Regions from separate parts of the Homo sapiens genome. Here region 2 is linked to region 1. The links come from fine-mapping of genetic effects on gene expression. Tissue or cell type: whole blood. Region 1 holds a variant in brackets; the other region holds the start of a gene. All regions are shown on one strand. Distances are between the middles of the regions.

The links.
Region 2: AKAP13 starts here. The variant in region 1 is fine-mapped to the expression of AKAP13 in whole blood (TOPMed, PIP above 0.99).

Annotation. Positions count from the first base shown.
Region 1 is chr15:85,540,330-85,551,212 of GRCh38, reverse strand. AKAP13 (A-kinase anchoring protein 13) reads right to left here. Exons shown (of 37, transcript NM_007200.5): 5 at 7,258-7,441. Among named protein-coding and RNA genes, the nearest start is that of AKAP13, 170 kb to the right of the region's middle. The variant T/C (reference allele first, on the strand shown) is at 5,267.
Region 2 is chr15:85,373,889-85,384,771 of GRCh38, reverse strand. AKAP13 (A-kinase anchoring protein 13) reads right to left here and starts at 4,169. Exons shown (of 37, transcript NM_007200.5): 1 at 3,974-4,169. MIR7706 (microRNA 7706) reads right to left here and starts at 4,176; the gene lies at 4,110-4,176. It overlaps LOC124903546 (a long non-coding RNA gene), which reads left to right and starts at 375. Exons shown (of 3, transcript XR_007064747.1): 1 at 375-565; 2 at 662-709; 3 at 1,037-1,096. RefSeq lists silencers at 3,465-3,632, 3,289-3,858, 4,239-4,318.

The DNA of each region.
Region 1 (10,883 bases):
GTCAAAATGCTTAAAGTTGTCCAGCTGAAAACTTAGGGGGAAAAAAAGGCACTGAGAACCAGAGTTATTAACCATCATAAATTAATTAGGTTAAAAGCCTGAAAATGCTACCAAACATGCCTCCTCACAAAATTCTATGAATAAATCCAAATACAACCTAAAGACAGGTTGTGAAAAGAGCGACTAACTATACGGCCTTGGACAAGCTGCTTTAGCCTCCCCGAGGTTTGCTGAGGGGTTTTAAATGAAAACGCAAGTAAAGCACCAAGGTAGTACTGTGCATAATACAAAGCAGGTATTCAATATTCAATAAATGTTAGTCTCCTCCCCCATTCTCTAGTTTCCACTCAGTTCTACAACCTTATCTTTACCAAGACACAAAGACCTAGATCACACAATGACAAAGGAAGTCAGATACAAAGGGATGGACAGACTGATGAATGGGAATTTGGCCAGATGTCAAGTTATCCCAAATCCTGCCTCTCTGGTTATTATTTTTAAGGTATGTCTGTACATTTGTTTCATCTTTTGCTTTACTATGCAAAAGCAAAGTCTCCAAACTTGTTTTGCACCAGATGGGCTACTGAGGACCCACTTGTCAAGTACCTGAAGAGGAATCTAAAAGGGCAAAATTACTATGTTGGCAGAACATCTTGCTCAATAGCACTTGGTTCCATTGTGAAATATGTATTCTTGAGTAGTCACTCCACCACCTAACCCTACACCTAGGTTTCAAGCGCAAGTGTCTTGTAAGAAGGACTTGAGAGCTTACAGGCACAAACCCTTTGAGAGGGGCCAATAGTGCCCACTACAGTAAATCATGACTGAGTACCTAGAGCTTGTCAGGCTGGGTCTGTGTTCAACATTCACATGTGTCCCCTCAATCTGGACAGATCGGTGCACTTTAGGTTCTGTTACTTTGCAACCTTGTGAACCGAGACCTTGGGCAAGTCACTTTACCTCTCTGGCCTCAGTTTCCTCAATTATAAAACAGAGATGGCCAGGTGCAGTGGCTCACGTCTGTAATCCCAGCACTTTGGGAGGCCAAGGCAGGCGGATCACGAGGTCACGAAATCGAGACCAGCCTGACCGACACGGTGAAACCCCGTCTCTACTAAAAATTCAAAAATAAGCCGGGCGTGGTGGCGTGCACCTGTAATCCCAGATACTCGGGAGGCTAAGGCAGGAGAATCACTTGAACCTGGGAGGTGGAGGCTGCAGTGAGCCGGAATCATGCCACTGCACTCCAGCCTGGGTGACAGCAATAGTCTGTCTCAATCAATCAATCAATCAGAGATGACAATACTTACCATATGTAAAATGGTAGCTTAAATGTAATCAACCATACTTTAAAAGTCATATAATGGGTAATATAAATGTACAGTTATTATAGTAAGAACCTTGTTTTCCTCAAAAAACATATAGACTAGAAACCATATAACCCTTTACATTTAAGAGTCATTTAATACTGTACCCTAGTAGCCTCGTCCTGAGTCTCTTCTTTCTCTCTGCCAAATTTTTGTAGAGGGAAGAATATGGGCCTTGGCATTCCACAGCTGTCTGTGTAACAGTAGCTCTACAATTTTCTATATAGCCTTGGACTAGTTACTTTAATTATCTGAGCCTCCATATTTCTCCCGCAAAACACAGATAATGCCTATTTCACGAGGTTGATATAAGGTTGAAATGAAACAATATCTGTAATGTACCAACCATGGTTTCTAGTGCAGTATAGGCATTCAATAAATGAAGATTTGTTCAGCTGATACTAAAAATAAGATGACATTTATGAGGACAAATATGTTTAAACTGGCTCTTATGGCAACTGAAATATTTCAGCACTTGTATGCCACCACTCCAGAGTTGAAATTCTTAAAATAAATACTCTTCTTATAAGGGTGGAAGGACTGTAAATGATTTTTTATCCATCTAGAATTCCTTGTTCCATTAATCTACAGGCATCAACATCACAGCATGTATCAAAGGGCCAAACTAATTTTATTTAAAGTAGTATCTATTACACTAGGGAATAATTTCCAACCTACATCAAGTCCCTACATCAAGTCCTACATCAAGTAGGGACATTCAAATGATGCTTAAAATACTTCAAGATTCTGGTAAAATTTCCCTGAAGTATGAAAAACTGACATAGGCATTAGAAGGAAAAGAAAATTAAAGAAAGGGAAATGGGGGTAACATTTATGTCAATCACTGAGTTATGCTCTCTACATGAATTGTTTATTTCTCAAAGCAACCCATTGAAGACAGTCCTCTTCTTCTTCTTGTGAGACCAAAAAAAAAAAAAAAAAAGGCACTGAGGTTTGGAGAGGTTAAGTGAATCACCCAAGATAAATAATACAGTTTCACAGAAGTAGACCCTGGATTCAAAACCAGCCAGTCTAACTACAATTCTCCAATCTCTCTACTAACTTTAATTCACAGAGAACTACAAGAAATATTACAAAACAAGATATCTGGTAGACCGATCAACTGGAATTTGAGTTTCATTGATCAGTTAACTCTAATTTTACTGATGTCATTATTATTATTAATATATAAGAAATGTTCAAATAGAGTATCTTAGAGTTTAACAAAGTATTTGCACCAATCTTTTTTTAGTTAAAATAACCTTGTGATGTAGGCAGAACAGGTATTATCATTAAGAGAGGGGAAACATGAGACTCAGTGGATAGGTGACATTTTCCAAGTCACACTAACTACTAAGTAGGCAAGCTTAGATTTTTATTAAGCTTTTAATCCGTAAGCAGTTCTACCATACTATACTACCATCTTTCTCCAAGAAGAAATATTTATGCACCTTTATTTGCTCCACAAAAATAACCAGAATCTGTATGACAAATAAGCCCTAATTTTTCATATTGCATACACTAAAGGCTGGGTTATCATCCAGGAAGTAAATAGCAATATCCTTTATTTATGAGATGAAGAAATCAAGGCTTAGCAAGGAAAGTTTGCAAATGGCAGAGCCAAAATGCAAACCTAGGTTTGACTTCCAAGTTTGCACACCTAGTCACTAGCTGGAGCCTCCTCTTACTCTCAAGCTCCCTCATACCCCCAACATGGGTGATCCAAGTCCCAAGATTTCTACTTTGAGATGTGTGAGTAAGAGATCAGCCAGATCCAATAACATCTGGCTCTAATATTTTCTTCTTAGATAACTACAATGCCACGCTCATCTGATATTGTCACTTCCTAGCATTCATGACACCAAGAGCCTGCAAACTGGGGTCTTTACCTATTCTCTCCATTACTAACTAGTTAGGTGACCATGGGTGGGGTCTTCAAATCAGAGGAGATGATTGTCCAACTAAAGGAAAAGTAGGCCTACATGTTTTGGGTACTCTTCTGGGGCTAAGATTTCTCAGGCAAGACAGAAAATTAAAGAAAGGGAAATAAGAGATAACATATATGTCAATCACTGAGTTATGCTCCCTACATGAATTCTTTCATTTACTTAGAGTGAAACTTAAATACAATGTATTTAAGATGAATTTTCAGATCACAAATGCATTCATATTCATAATGTAAGATCTAAATATAAGCTAAAGTGAAACAGCAAGTCAACAAAAGCTCTGCCTTCCCTAACACTGAACAAAGTGAAAGTTAACAATCATGGGTTACAAAAAAGGGAAACTGTAAAAAAAATGTCCTGAGTAGTTATTACTATCTGGTAGGATTTAAAATAAAGTTCAAGTGTTTTCTAAAGGGATAGGTCTTAGAGAATCCTTATATGTCCAAGAATGGCTAATCATAATTTTCGCAGAAGTAAGACTTGCTTTATCAAAATAGACTGGCAATCAAAATAAGCCTTGAACAAAGAAACACAAAAAGAACTTGGGCCCTAACCAGCACAAGGCTCCCCACACCCCACTTAAAAATTAAAAAGCAAAAAACAAGGTAAAGCACCAAGGAATTAAAACAACAAATGTACTTGGGAAGGGCTATAAATGGGGTTAAATAAGCTTGACTTTTCAGTAAAGTGTAGAATGCAACTAGTTATTCAATAAATGTAAAATATACATAGCCATACTTCAATTTCATACTAACTGAAAAGAGGCAATAAAAGAGGCCGGCTTATATGTGGACAATTTCATTTTTAAAAAGCAGGGTGGGGAAGAAGATACCCAAACTATTAGAAAGATAGCATCATGGCTGGGCGCGGTGGCTCACGCCTGTAATCCCAGCACTTTGGGAGGCCGAGGTGGGTGGATCACGAGGTCAGAAGTTCGAGACCAGCCTGACCAACATGGTGAAACCCCGTCTCTACTAAAAATACAAAAATTAGCCGGACATGGTGGCGCATGCCTGTAATCCCAGCTACTCAGGAGGCTGAGGCAGAAGAATTGCTTGAGCCTGGGAGGCAGAGGCTGCAGTGAGACAAGATCGTGCCACTGCACTCCAGCCTGGGCTACAGAGCAAGACTCCATCTCAAAGAAAAGAAAAAAAAAAAAAAAAGAAAGATAGCATCATACATTGTGGCGATTCTTAACTTTCTACAAACCCCTTCGTGAATCTCACCAACAAATGCTTTATTCAGAAAAACATGTGCATAAACCTTTATAATTTCAAGAGATACAGACCCCATGAAGTCTATTCTTGGGCCACTTTTTAAGAATCCCAGGAGTGGAAGGAAAGAGCTCTGGACAGCTTTTGGCTTCTATTTCTGGTCATACCACCTTGTTATCTTCATCCAACCACTTTGTCTCTCTGGATCTCAGTTTCATCTGTTAAAGATGATCTTTTCTTTTTAAGGCTGTAGTATTCCGTTATATGAATATACCACATTGTCCATTTATCTGTGATGGACATCTAGGTTGTTTACACTTTTGGCTGTGTGTGTGTGTGTGTGTGTGTGTGTGTGTGTGTGTGTTTGGTAACAACAATTATATAAATTTATTTATGGGGTACAGTGTGATGTTTTAATCTATGTATATACCATAGAAAGATAAAATCAACCTAAGTAACATATCCATCATCTCAGCTACTTATTTTTTTGTGGTGAGAAATACATTCTTTTTTAGCAATTTTGAAGTACGTATTGTTTTTCTGACACGTTACAACATGGGTGAACCTTGAGGACATTAGCTATGTAAAAGACAGACACAGAAAGACAAATGTTGCATGATTTCACTTATATGAGGTACCTAGAATGGGCAAATTCTTAGAGACAGAAAGGAGAACAGAGGTTATCAGGGGCTGGAGAAAAGGAAGTTCAGTTTGGGTGATGACAAAGTTCTGGAAATAA[T/C]AGTGGTGATGGTTACGTAACTCTGTGAGTGTTGTGATGGTACTGAATGCTACTGAATGCTGTCCCTAAAATTTACTATTTTAACCATTTTTACGTTATGTATATAGGAAAAGAAAGGGGAAGGAAAGGAGAAAAGAAAACCAATAACAAAATGATCATTCTTGATTCTTTAACAACTGAAATTCTACCAAATTCTACTAGAATCACTCTCACACTGAGTGATTTGGGACAATCGCCCCCTTTCCATTTTTTAATCGCTAATTATGACTCAGAACTTTTTCTAAGCTTCACAACAGTAACATCCCAGAATTCAAGTTAAGAGCTAGATCTGCAGCAAGGTGCTCATCCTCTCCTATCAGGGTCCTCTATTGGTGATTTCTCAGGTTGGTTTTCCCTTACCAATCTCCCTTCAAAAGGAGGTAAGTGGCTTTCCCACATGTAACAGAAGTAGTACTTTTAAAGTAAGCAAAAAAAAGTCAAAGAACAAACACACTCTAGTTTCCTTAAAGCTGTGCTGCAATAACAGTCTTGTGACATCCCCTCCAAGGATATAATGAAGCTGTTGTAATCACTTTATTTCCCCATTTGGATGGCAGTCCTTAACCAACTCTGCTTCCCAGCAAAAATCAAATTTAGAGGAAATGCATTTGAACTTCACAATAGTTATGCAGAGTTAACTGTTTCAACTTCTGAAACAAGGCCTCTCTTCCTGAGGCCATGAGGCTAACCGTAGAATGAATCCAATCATTGGCCAGATGGGAAGTGTGAAGGAGTAGAATGTATCACTCCCTGGAATACTGTCTTAGGAGAGCTCAGGTATCCAAAGCTCATTTGAGATAAGTGCCCCTCCTACCACCACTGTATCTGTAGCACCCATCAGAAAGCTTTCTGCAAAGAACTGTCTGTCTAGCGTGATGGGGAAAGGTATAAGCCTGGCAAGTGAATCAAGAAAAAGCTGTTTACATAACCGTAAGTAGCACTACATTCTGAGGTCTCTTTTTGGTCCTTCCAGACTATATACACAGTTAAAAATGGTAAAACATAAAGCACAACTAAATTAAATCTGGCATGAGCAAAATATCTGAGAATTTGCTAATACTGACTCAATTTGCACAGGTCCCTCAATTGCTAAAGAACATAGATCCAATGGGTTTATACTTGTTCAGATAATGTGGTGGAAAAGATAATGATGATAACCACAAAACTAATAAAAATGTATTAAACAACAGAAACTATTCTTGAAACTTCTTTATATAAACATTCCAATAAAAACTTTTGGCTGCTCTAGTGTGTTTATTTCTTTATTTATACAAGAATAAAAGAGCGCTCTTCAAATGTTTTGACTAACAACCTTCCTCTAGAGAACTCTTTAAAGAGTCAGGACATATAATAATTGAGCCCAAAAACAGACAGGATTTCCTACTGCACATTTCCAGGACAATTCAGTTGCTTTTTATTGCTGTTCATATGAAGAAACCACTGCTCTCAAATTTTATTCACAGAAATTACATTCAATCCAAAACTTAATTGTTTACAATATTTTCTGTATGCAATTATAATATGGAAGTACTGGTTTCTAATTAACTCTTTCAAGTCTTAAAGACATACCAGAAAAAAATATATGATATAGGAAATCTGTTTCCTCTTGTACTAAACCAGGATAAACTGTATACATTGGTAATGTTATGCTACCTCCACAGACAAGGCTCATTCTGACTTTTGAGTAAAATAGTAAAATATAAGAGATAAGAATTGAAGAAGGCAGGCAGGCAGACGAGAGAGAAAATGGTTAACACGACTTACGTTTCTCTCTCAGACAATGAAGTGGTTAGCAGGAGCAAGCTTACAAACCTCCAGCAGAAGGCAAGATACAGAGCTGAGGTTTTAATTTGCGGCAAACACACAATGAGATGCCAAGTGGGTGGTACTCCTATGAATCGGGGGTGGGGCTGGGGATGAGAGGAGGGAAATAAGGCAGAAGGAGCACTTACTCGGTTAGAAGCTGGTGCAGCTTGTGATAGCCTCGCTCCAAGGCCAAGCTCACAGGCGTCGCCCCTTCCTGGTTGTGGATACTGAGAGCTCCGCGGCCACCTGGCTTCTGCAACAGGAACCACGTCAACCTCAGCAGTCCCAGCCGCACAGCAAAATGCATCAATGTCTCTCGCGGGCCAGCATCTGTAAATGGGGGAGAAAATGAACGTAAGTGAGGAAAATATAAAAACAAAAAACAAACAAACATAAAGACAAGTTATGTAAACACCACTGCCTCCAAGTGCCTAAGATTGTAAAGTTAAGCTACAACATACAGTGTGAACAGCTTTATTGTGGCCAGGTAGAATCAGCCCTCAAGTAAAGGCAAAACAAAGCTACAAAAGCATAGAAAGTATAGGAAGCAAAATCTTCAATCGAACACAGTCCTGCAAAAGAGAATCAGGACATTTCTATATTCTGACTTAATACACAGTGTTTGTTCAACCAATTTCACAGGCAGGCATATAAAGGCGACCCATACACACGTTCTTTTACTCAAATAATAATAACAGAAGCAAATGCAGCCCCACAACATGAGGTCCAAGAGGGAATAGCTGTTGGGACTTAAATGGGTGTATCATAAATGGTATAATTACTTTTTAAAAGAACACCCAGACAGGAGTTGGCTAGTTAAACACTAAAAACAGGTTCTGCTTGTTCAGTACACATGGGTCTTTTTATTCCTACACAATAAGGGCAAATCAAATTTCTGGCACTGCCAGCTTTATTTATTTGTTTAATGAGAGGAAGAAATGCATCTCCTGGCACAATAAGGAAGACTAACTCTAAGACAATCCACTAATAACTGCAGAAAGGAAAACGTTTATTTAACTTGAAATAAAGGCTCCCTCTTAGTAAAGTGAGTCACTCTGAAAGTGACAGAATGAGGAAGGGCTTGTAGTTAGACAAATCAGGGTTCGAATCTGGCATTTACCATCTGTGTGACCAAGCGTGATTCATGTAACATCTCTGAACTTCACTTTCTTCATCCCTAAAGTGAGATACCAACACCTCACTCACAGAGGTGTAACAAATGAGAAGAGGTAGATGAAATGCTAGTATTATGACTGGCTGTAGTAGACATTCATTAAATCCCAGTTCCTCTCTGTTTCCCGGCTCTCTTCACTGTCCTCTTGGACATCAAATTACATTCAAGGTTCACTAGCAATACTCTCTTCCTTCAGCAGTCCTCAGTGCCCAACCTAGGATGACAGGAGCTGAGGTCTTTGCAGGGATGCCACATATAGCCCCACAAGGCTGTACTACACTTAACTCCAGGGAGCTGGGAATGGCACCCTGAAGTTGTGCCTGCCTCAGCTTAGCTATCATCTCTTTCTTCATGGCCTCCCACGGGTCTAAACTTCTTCACTAAGCACTCGGACTTTTTGGACCCCAGTGGTTTTCTCCTTACTGTGAAGTCCTCAAATGCTTCTATACGTGAATATCACAAAGGAATGAACAGATTTTTGAAGCTGTGATTTTACACTGAATTACACTGTTTCCAAATGTCATCTGTGTATTAGTCTGGTATCCCTATTTCCAAGGTAAATTTCCTTGGAAGCACAATTTTTCATATTGTATATTTTCCCTACAGAACTGTATATGCATAGACCAATTCAGGATTTAAAGGGTGTTTAACCAGAGGCACATGGCTGGAAAGATTATGCCCCAGAAGCAACAACTACATGTGCAGGTACAAATTTTAATAATCAACACCTCTGCGCAGATGGCAAGGCCAGACAAAAGGACAAATAGAATCCTCACAAAAGATCAAATAGCACCATCTAACTTTTGCCTTACAGTTGTTCTGACATCCTTATCAAGAACAAAGAGCTAATGAGGCACTAACTAGGAAATACCTGATTCTTTAGAGGCTAGTTATTTCCAACCTTGAAGCAGCTGTCTCTTTACCACCCTCCCACAACCACTCTTCTGATTTGTTATTTGTTCTGAGTCAGCTCAGCATTTCAGTAGAAATCCCAATACTACAGCCACACGCCTGCTCAGAAGCTGATGCCCTGACTTCTGCACTACATCCTCTCTCAATTTCTGAAAGTCTTAGCAACTGGTACCACATCTGCTTTTGTGTAGACCCTTTCTGAGGATAACAGATTAGGAGAAAACAATGTAGTGCTATGCACCATGCACTGGGCTAGGCAGTTTATGTCAACTTTTTCCATTCTATCTTCTCAGTAACCCTATGAGGTCTGGTTATCTTCATTGTGCAAATGAAGGCAGATTCATAGAATTAATAGCTTGCCCACAGTCAGATCAGGATTTAAAATCAAAAGTTCTTCTGTCTTGCATTAAACAAACAAACAAACAAAAAACCTTTTCCATTACTCCACCCTGTTTCTTTTTGCTAGGAAATAAAACCACAAATACAAAAACAAGCAATCATACAAGCAAGCTAAACTAATGTGGTTTAAAAAGCACCTTTTTATGTTTTCTTCCAACATTTTATTAACTTTTCCAACATACACATAGTTCAAAGAATCACACAGCAAATAGCCAGACACTCACTCAACAACCTAGATCCTACAATTAATGTTTTTCTATATTTGCCTTATCACATATATATCCAACGATTCTTCCTTCTATTTCCCCATCGATCCACCTTATTTTTATGCATTTCAAAATAACTTGAAGATATCAGTCCACTTCACCCCAAAATACTTCAGCATGCATATAATTAACTAGCATTCAATATGTAGTTACAATTTTAGGTGATTTATATACAATGAAATACATATGGTATAGTATACCCATTTGATAAATTTTGACAAATGCATATACACGTGAACCCAAATCTGTACCAACATATAGAAAATTACCAATATCCAAAAAAGTTCTTTTGTGCCACTTTCCAGTTAATCCTCTCCTCCTCATTCAGAGTTAACCATTGTTCTGAATTTTTCACCTACATTAGTTTTGCCTGTTCTACAACTCCATATAGATGAAATTATAGAATATACACTCTTGTGTAAGGCTTCTTCGATGAGCATGTTTGAGATTCATCTACATTGCTGCATGTAGCAGTAGTACATTCTCTTTTACTGCTGAGTAGTCCACCGCATGCATATACCCCCAGTTTTAGGTATTCTCCCATTAATTTCTCACACATTTTTATTTGATTCAGGGGTCATGTGAATTAGGTTTGTAGAAGAGGCCAAGGTGCAAAGGGATAAACGAATATATGAATTTAGTTTCCTTTAGTCTGTGTTGTTTTAAGAGCATGAAAGCTTCCATCACTGCTTTCTTCCTTTTGTGTTTAAACTGCAGAGCTCAATCATTTAGGATCAATCTCTGTTCCCTTTTCTCTGCATCAGTACTCCTCTGTAATCTGAGTTACTCAACTTCATTTTTTTAGATCACTAATGGCCTTTCCTACAGTGTCAACTGAGTCCTTTGTCCCCAGTGTGAATTAACTGTGCTTTAGGATTGTGGATGGCTGCATCATTTTTGCCAACTCACTCCCCTTCCATCCTTGTCGTCATAATAATAGCTTTGCCGCAGATGTAATTAAAGCCCCTAACCAGTTGATCTAATAAGGGAGGTTATCCTGGATTATGTGGGCAGGATAATC
Region 2 (10,883 bases), 170 kb after region 1:
TTCCACTGACCAGTGAGGACAGATGCATGAAACAAACCTTTTTTTTTTTTTTTTTCAGACGGAGTCTCGCTCTGTCGCCCAGACTGGAGCACAGTGGCATGATCTCGGCTCATTGCAACCTCCACCTCCCGGGTTCAAGCGATTCTCCTGCCTCAGCCTCCCAAGTAGCTGGGATTACAGGCACCTGCCACCCTGCCGGGCTAGTTTTTGTATTTTTAGTAGAGATGTGGTTTCACCATGTTGGCCAGGCTGGTCTTGAACTCCTGACCTCAAGTGATCCGCCCGCCTCAGCCTCCCAAAGTGCTGGGATTACAGGCGTGAGCCACTGCGCCAGGCTATGAAACAAACTTTCTTCCACCCACAGCTTTCTCGTCTCTCCCCATTTACAGCAGTAAGACAGCCTAACCTGGGAAAGAGAGAGGGAAGCTACTTCCAAATGGATGCCTGTCCCCATCAGTAATAACCAAGTCTATTCAAGTGCCAGATGTTAACTTTAAAAGAAGGGAACATCAAAAGTCCAACTTTCTTCGCCTAGCTTTGTCAGGAATGTTTTTACCCTCAATCTGTAAGTGTGACCAACTGTAATTTTTAAAGGTTTATCCTCAATCTGTAAGTTTGATCAAATATAATTTTTAAAGGTTTACTATAATCTCTTCATCAGAAAACTAATGGAAAGATGGAATAAAATCTAAAGAAATGTCCTTAACAGGTAAATATTTCTAGAATGTATCTACTCCATCTAGGTAGTGTAAGTATTCTAAACTATGCTAGTATAACTGATTTAAATCACTGCCTTCTTCTGTAAATGGTGTCACCTTTAAAGTGTTATCTTGAAGAGGAAGTGAGTGATTTGCTCATGTCTCTGTACTGAACTAACACTGTTAACACCCAGTCCAGCTCTACCTTAAACAAGTTTGAGAAATACAGACACAATCCACACTTATTTGCCAAGACTAAGGTAAAATAAAGTTGGAACTCATATCCTCTTATGACTGATGTACTGAAAACAATCCATCTCTCACTGTTGCCCAAATAGCATAGTCACAAAGAGCTCTACCCTACCAAGCCACTCTGCAAGTCCCACTCTCAAAGGAAGACTCACAGGTGACTGAGAAGATAAACTCGCTATTGTTTCCATTATCCTTCAGTTCATCTGGCACCTTTGAAGAAATAGACTTCGATAAGACTCACAAGTCTCAAGGCCCCTTCTTTATGAAAGAAATAGCTAAACCTCTACACTCAGAAGCATCAGACTTTTAAGAATGCTTAAGTCATGTAAAAATGTACCAAAATTATTATCATTACAGCTACTAGGTAATAGCTGCCTACTCCATGTTAGATACTGTAGTTAAGTACCTCACATAGTTTCACTGATTCCTAAGAACACTGTTACTAACGCTTATGGAGTAGGAAACTGAAGCTCTGAGAGGCTATGCAACTAGTCAATGGAAGTGTGGAGATCTGAACGCTACCTAGTTCCAAAGGGTGTACTTTTTTCTAAAATTTCTAATTTTTTTCCAATTTCACAATGGAGGGAGAGTTGTGACTAGATTTGTCCAACAATTTTAATAATTTCACTGGCTGGGTGGAGTGGCTCACGTCTGTAATTCCAACACTGTGGGAGGCTGAGGTGGGAGGATGGCTTGGGTCCAGGAGTTAGAGACAACTGGGCAACAGTGAAGATTCCGACTCTAAAAAAAAACAATAATAATTTCACAAAAAGGGGGGGGCTGATTTCTAAATTGGAACCTCTTGTTGAAATCCTTAGAGCGCTAGTTAAACCCACTTCTTTTCAAAAAATAATTGACAGATTAAAAAAAGGTTAGAAATCCTTTTAAAGTAAATGTCATCACAGATCTGCAAGTGAACTGTCATTCTGGACAGGTCCCCAGTTAGTGGCTCTCTCCTGTGTACGCTAGCTACCACTAGGCAGTAAAAATAATTTACCCAATTCAAACACGTACCGTGCCTGCACTATGTTAAGACTACCGGCAAAGAGGGTAAAAAGCTAAATAAGGTCTATCACAGCCCTCAAGGAGTTAAAGGACTAGAGGAGGAGTCCATTTATAGTATAGTATGTGTGCAGTTACCATTTAGTCAAGGCAAAAGAAGTGTGAGAAATCCTAAAACAATAGTACCTACAGTATAACATGCCATCACCGCCCAGAGAAGGAAAGCAACTAGTGCACTCGTCACGTCATGTTGTAAGTAGTACTTGCTTACATTATGTCCCTCCCTGACAATCCCTTCCAACCTCTGTCAACCTCCTTCCCCACAATCACACACACAAAACCACACAACCAGGAAGGGAAGCCATGGAGCGAGTACTGTGAATCCTAAAAGCGGCTCTGTAATTTAAAAGTGCAATGGCTGTACCTGAAGAAAATTTGTCTTTAGCTTCATCAGGTGAAGAAAATTGGTTTTATAACACAAGGCCCACCAAACCAGAAAAGCCCAGGAACGCTTCTCCACAGGACTCACTTAGCACGAGAAATCACTCTGAGCAAACTGACACACACAGTATTTCTCAAATTTTTCTTTTTCATTTAGCAGATGGTAAAGGAATACAACTGAAGTTAACAATAAATGACACTCTGGCCATTTTGCTCCACTATGAATGACAGACATTTAAGCTAGTTCCATCTGGGGAACTGAAACAGAATCATGTTCATATAATAAGCCACACAAACCAAATTAAGTGTAATATGTGCACCCAAACTTGACAAAACTTGTACTTAATGCAGCCTGCAAATCCCCAAGAGTCCACGACAGAATACAAGAATAGTAACAATGATTTATCTCAACTGATCTTAGCTTCTTCACAAACTTGCCAATAATGACCTTTCAAGAACTGCACCGTTTGTCCTCATCTGCGCAATCCAACAGTTCAGAAAAACTGAAGAAAATGCTTCTTCTAAAAATAAAACACTTGTTGTGGGGGGGACTACTAACAAAAAAAAAGGCACACTGGTTTTTACTGTACTGAAGCAATAAACTCTCCAAATAACTTCATTAAGGAGTGTCATTAGCAAAGAATGAACACCAAAATACCGCTCAATCCAATTTTCATTGTGAATTCCGGGATCTAGAAAATTAAATGGGACGGTATCACTCTGCTATAAGAACTATTTCCAAAACAAAACAAACCTATCTACCCCCTTTCTTGATTTTTTTTTAAAAAGTTTTAGGGTTTTTCCTTTTTTCAACTTCACATACTTCGTGGCTTTGCAAAAAAAAAAAAAAAAAAAAAGCAGTAAACCGTATTTACCAAAAAAAAAAAAAAAAGTTTTGTTTGGTATCAAAGTATAGCTGCAAGCTGAGCCGGCTGGCTGCACGGGTCCCAGAGCGCGTGGGGACCGCACGGGTCTCCTGGGCCGCTCGCCTGCGACCCGCGCGGGTCAGCTGGGCCGCACCCCCGAGAAGCCGCGGAGAGGCACCGACAGGCAGGCGCGGCCCGACGTGTTTACCGTCCGCGTCGACCCCGGGGAGCCGCTCCCTCGCGCCCGCAGCACTTGTTCACGGCGCGGACTCCACGGCGGGGACTCCACACCGCGGCCGCCCGCCCCAGGGGAGGAGTGAGCCCGCCCCGGCGGCGCCGACCCGGGGACCCGGGGCAAGGATTCGGGGCCTCGCTGGGGGCGGAGCGCCTGAGGTAGCATCGGCGGCCGGGCGCGCCCCCCACCCGGAAAGCGGCGACGGCCTCTAAGTTGGGCTGCGGAGTGGGAGGCGCGCCGAGCCCCAAGCAGACAATGCGGGAGAAGGGCGATGCGCAGGGAGGAGGGGTCCGCAGACCTGAGGTCCCGGCGCCGCCCGGCGACCCGTCTGTCCAGCCCGCCCCCGAAACCCCCGCAGCCCCCGCCCCTCCTCCGGGGCCCGCCCCACCGAGCAACCGCAGGGGACTGGCCGCGCTCCGCGCCCCGACCCACAAATCACAAAACTTCCCCCAACTCCGCCAACTAAGTTGCGCTCTCACCGTGCGGCTCCCGGGGCTCCCCCGCGGGCCGAGCTGGGACAACTCTTCACCTTCGCCGCGGAGAAAGACAATAGGCGGCCGCTCCCCCGGAGGCGGCTAAAGCGGCGGCGACCGAGGCGAGCAATGGGCACGGCAGTCTCGGCAGAGCACAGGCGCTTCACCGCGGCTGCTCGGGCTCCGCGCTGGCCCTGCACACAGCTCCAGTCCGCGCATGCGCCGAAAGACGCTCGGGAGGGTGGGCGGGGCACGCGGGAAGGCGGTAACGCCTGCGAGTCCTCCCGTGAGTACACGCGGAGCAAGAACTGCGAGCTGGGATTGCACGGCAGAACTGCCCATCTCGCTGCATGAGACCAATAGTAAGGCTCCTGGACGGGGCACTCAGGTTGCTAAGGGAGGCTGAGGTTGACCGCCGCTGCTGCTCGGCGGCAAAGTGATCAAAGTAGGGTGGCTGGCAGAGGCTGCTCTGGGAAATGCCCACCCACGGTCTCCTCTCCGCCCTGTCTCCAGAAACCGCCCTTCCTCTGTGTACTGGTGGTTACCTGAGCTGCAGCACTTAACCACACATCGTGAAATGATTTACTCCTCTATTTCCCCCACTTCAACTCAGGAAGTGGGGTTTAGTCTTCTGTGTCCACAGCCTAGGACCGTCTAAGGTATTAGGTATTAAATATAGGTATTAAACAAGTGTTGGATGGATGCACGGCGCTATGGCGGAATCACAATTGTGACAGTGCATTCCGTGAACTTCTGGCTACTCGATCACCACAAAGTCATTCCGTGTTCGAGCTGCAAAGGACCTCAAAAATCATCTGGTTGCTTTGGGAAACAAAATGTGGTCCGTGTACCAATGGTGCCGGTAACCACCGGCCCACAGAGGAAGGGCGGTTTCTGGAGACAGGGCGGAGAATATATTAGTTGGTACACGAAGAAACTTCTTTTTTCAAATAGTTAAGTGTTTTTAGTGCGCATTAGGAGGGAAATGCCTATCACGTCAAACCACTGTTTCATTAATGTTATTTCTTAGGTCAAATAAAAAGTGGCAAAAAACGAAAGCACTTCAAGAAAAGTGTTAAGTAAAAAACTGAGACAATTTATATGCAGTTGAAGAACGTGTAAAACTAGTTGATAGTGATTGAAGTAAGAACAGCGGTTAGGTAGGAGGAGAAGATTATTGGCTGGGAAGGAGGAGGAGGGAACCCTCTGGGGTGCTGGTTCTGTATTTTGACCTGGGTGATAGATAACAAAAGTATATACATGAATAAAAAATACATCCAGTGCACTTTAGTGCACTTTGCACATTTTAAACATGTATTTTTAATGTCAGTTTTCAAAAATCTGGTACAGGATATTACCCCCCCGCCCCCAAAAGAAAAGCAAAGATGCAAATGACTGCCATTTGGGAAACACTGATCCAGGCGGCTCACTAGCAGTGACCAAACACCTGAGAAAGGGTATTGTGAATACCTGATGTGTGTGCCAGGAACTTCCATTGTTGAATAGCTCCAAATCTCAGAAATGCTCCTAATGTTGAGCTCTGGTGCTCACATATATTTTCTCTTTTTTTCTTTTTTCTTTTTTTTTTTTTTTTTTTTTTTGAGGCAGAGTTTCACTCTTGTTGCCCAGGCTGGAGTGCAATGGTGCAATCTCAGCTCACTGTAACCTCCACCTCCAGGGTTCAAGCGATTCTCCTGCCTCAGCCTCCCAAGTAGCTGGGATTACAGGTACCCACCACCACACCCGGCTAATTTTTTTATTTTTAGTAGAGACAGTGTTTCACCATGTTGGCCAGGCTGGTCTCAAACTCCTGACCTCAGGTGCTCCACCCACCTCGGCCTCCCAAATTGCCGGGATTACAGGCATGAGCCACCGCACCCGGCCCTATTTTCTTAAGTAACCCTCACCGAATGGCTTTAAAAAAAAAAAAAGAAAAGAAAAGAAAGGCCAAACATGCCCAGTTCTTCATGTGAAATTATTTCTGTATCACTTCATCATGCTGCTCACCCTCTTCCACTGTTCTCTAATCTGTCCTTGTTGATTTTTAAAAACTGGCACAAGGCCTGGCGCGGTGGCTCACACCTGTAATCCCAGCACTTTGGGAGGCTGAGGAGGGCAGATTGCTCGAGCCCAGGAGTTCGAGACCAGCCTGGGCATCAATTGAAACGCCATCTGTACTAACAAATACAAAAATTAGCCAAGCATGGTAGCCCAAATCTTAGCTACTTGGGAGGCTCAGGTGGAAGGATTGCTTGAGCCCAGGAGGCAGAGGTTGCAGTGAGCCAAATCATGCCACTGTACCCCAGCCTGGGTGACAGAGCCAGACCCTATCTCAAAAAAAAAAAAAAAAAGGCTGGCACAGAGAGAGAAGCAGCCTATCATGAGCCGGTCACTTCTCAAAGAACCTGAGTCTTCTGTGAAGCAAGAGTGCTAACCAAGAAAATCACTTGGACCCTAACATTTGATAACCCAGTGAACTTCCCCCTTAGAACCTAGCTTGTTTGTTTCAGAGGCAGCAGTAAATGTTACCATGTCATCTTTCTACGGACACTGACAACACCGTTCCCTGCTCCCCGCCTCAGCAGGATTTACACCTTTCCAGTGGGCTGCAGGAAAAGTTAAGAGTCTAGCACTTCTTGAATTTACTGTGCTTACAAATCACCTGGGAGTGTTTGTTAAATGTGGATTCTGATTCAGTAAGTCTGGGGTGGCATCTGGGATTCCGCATTTCTAAAAAGCTCCCAGGTGCTACTGACGTAGCTATTTTGAAACCCGACTTTTTTTTTTTTTTTTTTTTTTAAGACAGAGTCTCACTCTATTGTCCAGGCTGGAATGCAGTGTCATGATCTCGGCTCACTGAAACCTCCGCCTCCCCGGTTCAAGCGATTATCCTGCCTCAGCCCCCCAAGTAGCTAGGATTACAGGTTCACACCACCACACCCAGCTAGTTTTTGTATTTTTGGTAGAGACAGAGTGTCACCATATTGGCCAGGCTGGCCTTGAACTCCTGACCTTAGGCGATCTGCCCGCCTCGGCCTCCCAAAGTGCTGGGATTACAGGCATGAACCACCATGCCCAGCCTGAAACCCAACTTTGAAGGCAGGAGTCTACCCTAAATTCCCCAAACGGTTGAGCCCTCTGTCCTCCTTGGGAATTCCTAAATTGTTATCTGCATGGCTGATGTCGTCTCATCATTCAGGCCTCAGCTCAAATGATCCTCCTCAGAGAAACCTTCCTTGGCCACCCTCCCTAAATTGACCCACTCTAATCTAGTCCCTCTCTTGCGTATTACTCAGTTTTTTCCATAGCATTTATCTCAATCTGAAAGTACCTTATTTATCTTGTGTGTTTATTGGCTCCTCCCACTATAATGTAAGCTCCTTGAAGTATGCTGTGTTTACCCCCTCTCTCCTGCCCCTCTAATAGTGTCTGGTTCACAGTATGGACTCAATGAATTTCACATTAGTGAACTTGTACAGAAGAAGCTATTACAAGGAGCCTTCAAACTGAGTGTCCCTGATACTAAAGACTTGTTCTTCCAAGGTGTACCAAATATTTCTACATAGTATGCCATATTTCACAGAAAGAGGTTGCAGGTTTAATCATTTCCTCATGTACTCTCAGTAAGTTCGCAAGCCAGGAAAGATGCCTTACTAAACAGTGGTGGGGTTTTGTATCTCTGAACTATCTCTCCATTGACTTATATATCTTCCCAACTGATTTACACAGGTTCTATATAATACCTAAAAATATAACAAGAATAAATCCCATTTTACAGAGAGTTCCTGGCAATGCCAAAGCAAAGAAAAAACAAAATTAACACAGTTAAAAGAGCATAAATTTCTCTTGAAGCTCACACTGTCTAACCTGTCCACTTTGATAATAGAAGCACTGGAACAAGTATATCCCAGTGTTCCTTCACAGCAGTGGACATTGTATTGCATTTGTGATAGAAATAGTGTCCTGATCATGCTTTGAGAGCTTCCACTCTCAGCTCCTTGCTTGGTGTGAAGCCAGCTCTACCACAGCCCCAATTCCATGGCCTCAGCGTGGAATCCAGACCTGACTCTCCTGATGTATCCTATCCACGGGCAACGGTGACTACTTCCAGACTACTCTGCTGGAACTAGGGTCTTGTTTGACTGGAATATTTGTCTCCCTTAAATGGAATCTGGAAGGATATACCTGTCAGCCATCTTGTCACCACAAAGAAAGAACCTTTAGAATGGAACTGGAACAACGGGAAGTAAACAGAGATGAAGAAAAACAGTGTCTTAGTGACACTAGTTGAACTGCTGAATCCGGCAATGTAGACTTTTCAATCCTGTAGGCCAATAAAGCCTGGCACAGTGGAGGTTTCTGTCACTTGCATCCAGAAGAGTTCTAATTGCCACACCACCCATGAGCTGATGATCCCTGGCCAATTCCCTGACAAATGTCTATTGAGAGTTTACTGTGTTCCAGGCATTAGTCATGGTCCTGGGGTTATAGGTGAAGAAGAGGTTACTGTCTTTAAGAAACTCACAGTCAATTGAAGGCAGGCAAACCAGGAAGAAATCAAATGTGTAGGTGCCTTTAAAGAGGCCAATGGAGGGTGTTATGGGGAACAGAGAGGAGTATTTCTCCTAGTTAAAGGATGAAAGTTTAGGAAAGACATCCAAGAGGATGAGACAGATAAGCTGGGTCTTGGAAGACAATCAGGCAGATAAAGAACAGTGGGGTAGTGCAGGAGACTAGGGTGTGTGTGCACAGATAATAGAATGACCTTTCTAGAAAAGGGAAGAGCAAATTCAAAGACACGGCGGTATCAGAAATACAACACACATAAGAAACTGGGTGGGAGATGAAGCTGAGGGCAGGGAGTGGCAGCCAGGTCACGAATGGCCTGGTACGCAGCCCTGGTAAGGAGTGTGTCCCTTATTCTGAAAGGCAAAGAGGAAACCTCAAAATGTGTGAAGAAATAGAACAACAGTGAGAGCAGATTTTCATCTTGTAATAGAAAGATCACCTTACCACCATATGTCGAGGCTGGATTTAAGTTGGGGATGAGGATGGAAGAGAACAAGGGAATCTTTAAGAGAAATCTTCCTCCAGGCAGAAGGTTTTGCAGTCTAGAGCTGAATTTTTATTTCTTGGGGGCAGAGGGAATCTTGCCTCCCTGATGTCAAGCCCAATGTTATCCAATATATATGAGCCATATGTATGCTTTAGAATTTTCCAGTAGTCACATTTAAAAAGTAAAAAAGAAGCAGGTGAAATTTGTTAATGGGGTATTTTTACATTCTATCTATTGTGCTAAGTCTTCAAAATAATCCAGTGTGTATTTACACTTACAGCACATTTCAATTCAGTCTAGTCACATTTCAAGTGCTCAAAAGCCATGTGTGGCTGATGGCTAGTGTACTGGACAGCAAAGGTGAGGTTGATTGCTTCTGATACAGAGCCTCTATCTAGGAATTCCTTCCAAACCTCAATATGTTCCTAAAGCCAAAATTCCTGCACCATACCTCTTCACTTGCATTATCTCATTTATTCATCACAACAACCCTAGGCTGGCACTATTATCCTCCTTTTACAAGTAACAAGTAATCTCTTTTACAGAGATTAAGTAATTTGCTCCAAGTCACATAGCTACTGATTGGCACCGCTTATCGTTCAAGAGATGAAAACTAAGGGAAAGTTGCCAAATCCAAGTTAGAATAGTACTTGAATACAATTTCCCTCATTAGGGCTCTCTCACCTCCTCTTCCTCCTCCCCTCTGTACTTGGAACTATGAACCTATCTAGTCAGCCTAGCTACAGAGTAGGTGCTCAGTAGAGAGCTGATTAAGCAACCAGTTCCTTGTTGAGAATACATCTCAGGAATTCTACAGGCGCAAACTAAGCAGAGATATGGCTTAAGGTTATATGCTGGATTGTGGGTAAATGCACAGTAAATGGCATTTATCATTACGATTATTACCAGGTCAGATACTATTAACATTTTAGGGACCTTGCTGCATATTCATTGCAAGCAGTCTTCCAAAACAGTTGTGCTGATTTATAATTTACATCCCTGTCGTCAGGGCATCAGAGTGCCTAACCTCTCTAATTTAAGTTCTTCTTGCATGAAACAGAAGGAGTTTAGAAGTGGTCAGAACTGGCCGGGCGCAGTGGCTCACGCCTGTAATCCCAGCACTTTGGGAGGCCCAAGCGAGCAGATCACAAGGTCAAGAGATCAAGACCGTCCTGGCTAACATGGTGAAACCCCATCTCTACTAAAAATACAAACAATTAGCTGGGCGTGGTGGCACACGCCTATAGTCGCAGCTACTCGGGAGGCTGAGGCAGGAGAATTGCTTGAACCCAGGAGGCGGAGGTTGCAATGAGCTGAGATCACACCACTCCAGCCTGGGCTACAGAGTGAGACTCTGTCTCAAAAGGAAAAAAGAAAAAAGAAGAGTTCAGAGCTAAGTTTGGATCATGGATGCTCAAATTCTTTGTCTGTAAAGGGATCACTCCCACCCAATAGCCACATTATAACAAATATAACCCTGAGCACATTGTCTGGCACAATGCAAGTTGCTCTGTCCACTTTACATCCCTCCTCCACTTCCCCCTTGAGAGACAATAAGATAAAATGAAGTCTAGGAGTAGATCTGATTATGCAGAAAAATTGATAATTGACAAATGCAGGGAAACATGCACCTTGCCAAAATTGTCATAGAGAATTTTCAACAAAAAGTGCATATTATCATGTACTGACTTCCTCAATACTTGCAGCAGCCACCCAGTCTCCTGCCCCCAGAGGCTCCCCAGCCTTTAATTAATAAATGCCAGATGTACTGCTTATTGATAGAACAATTTATTTCATTTCTGAAACCCTTGCTTTTCTCCATAACGACCTTCCCAGCAAAAGGTTTGCTTGAAGGCTGCT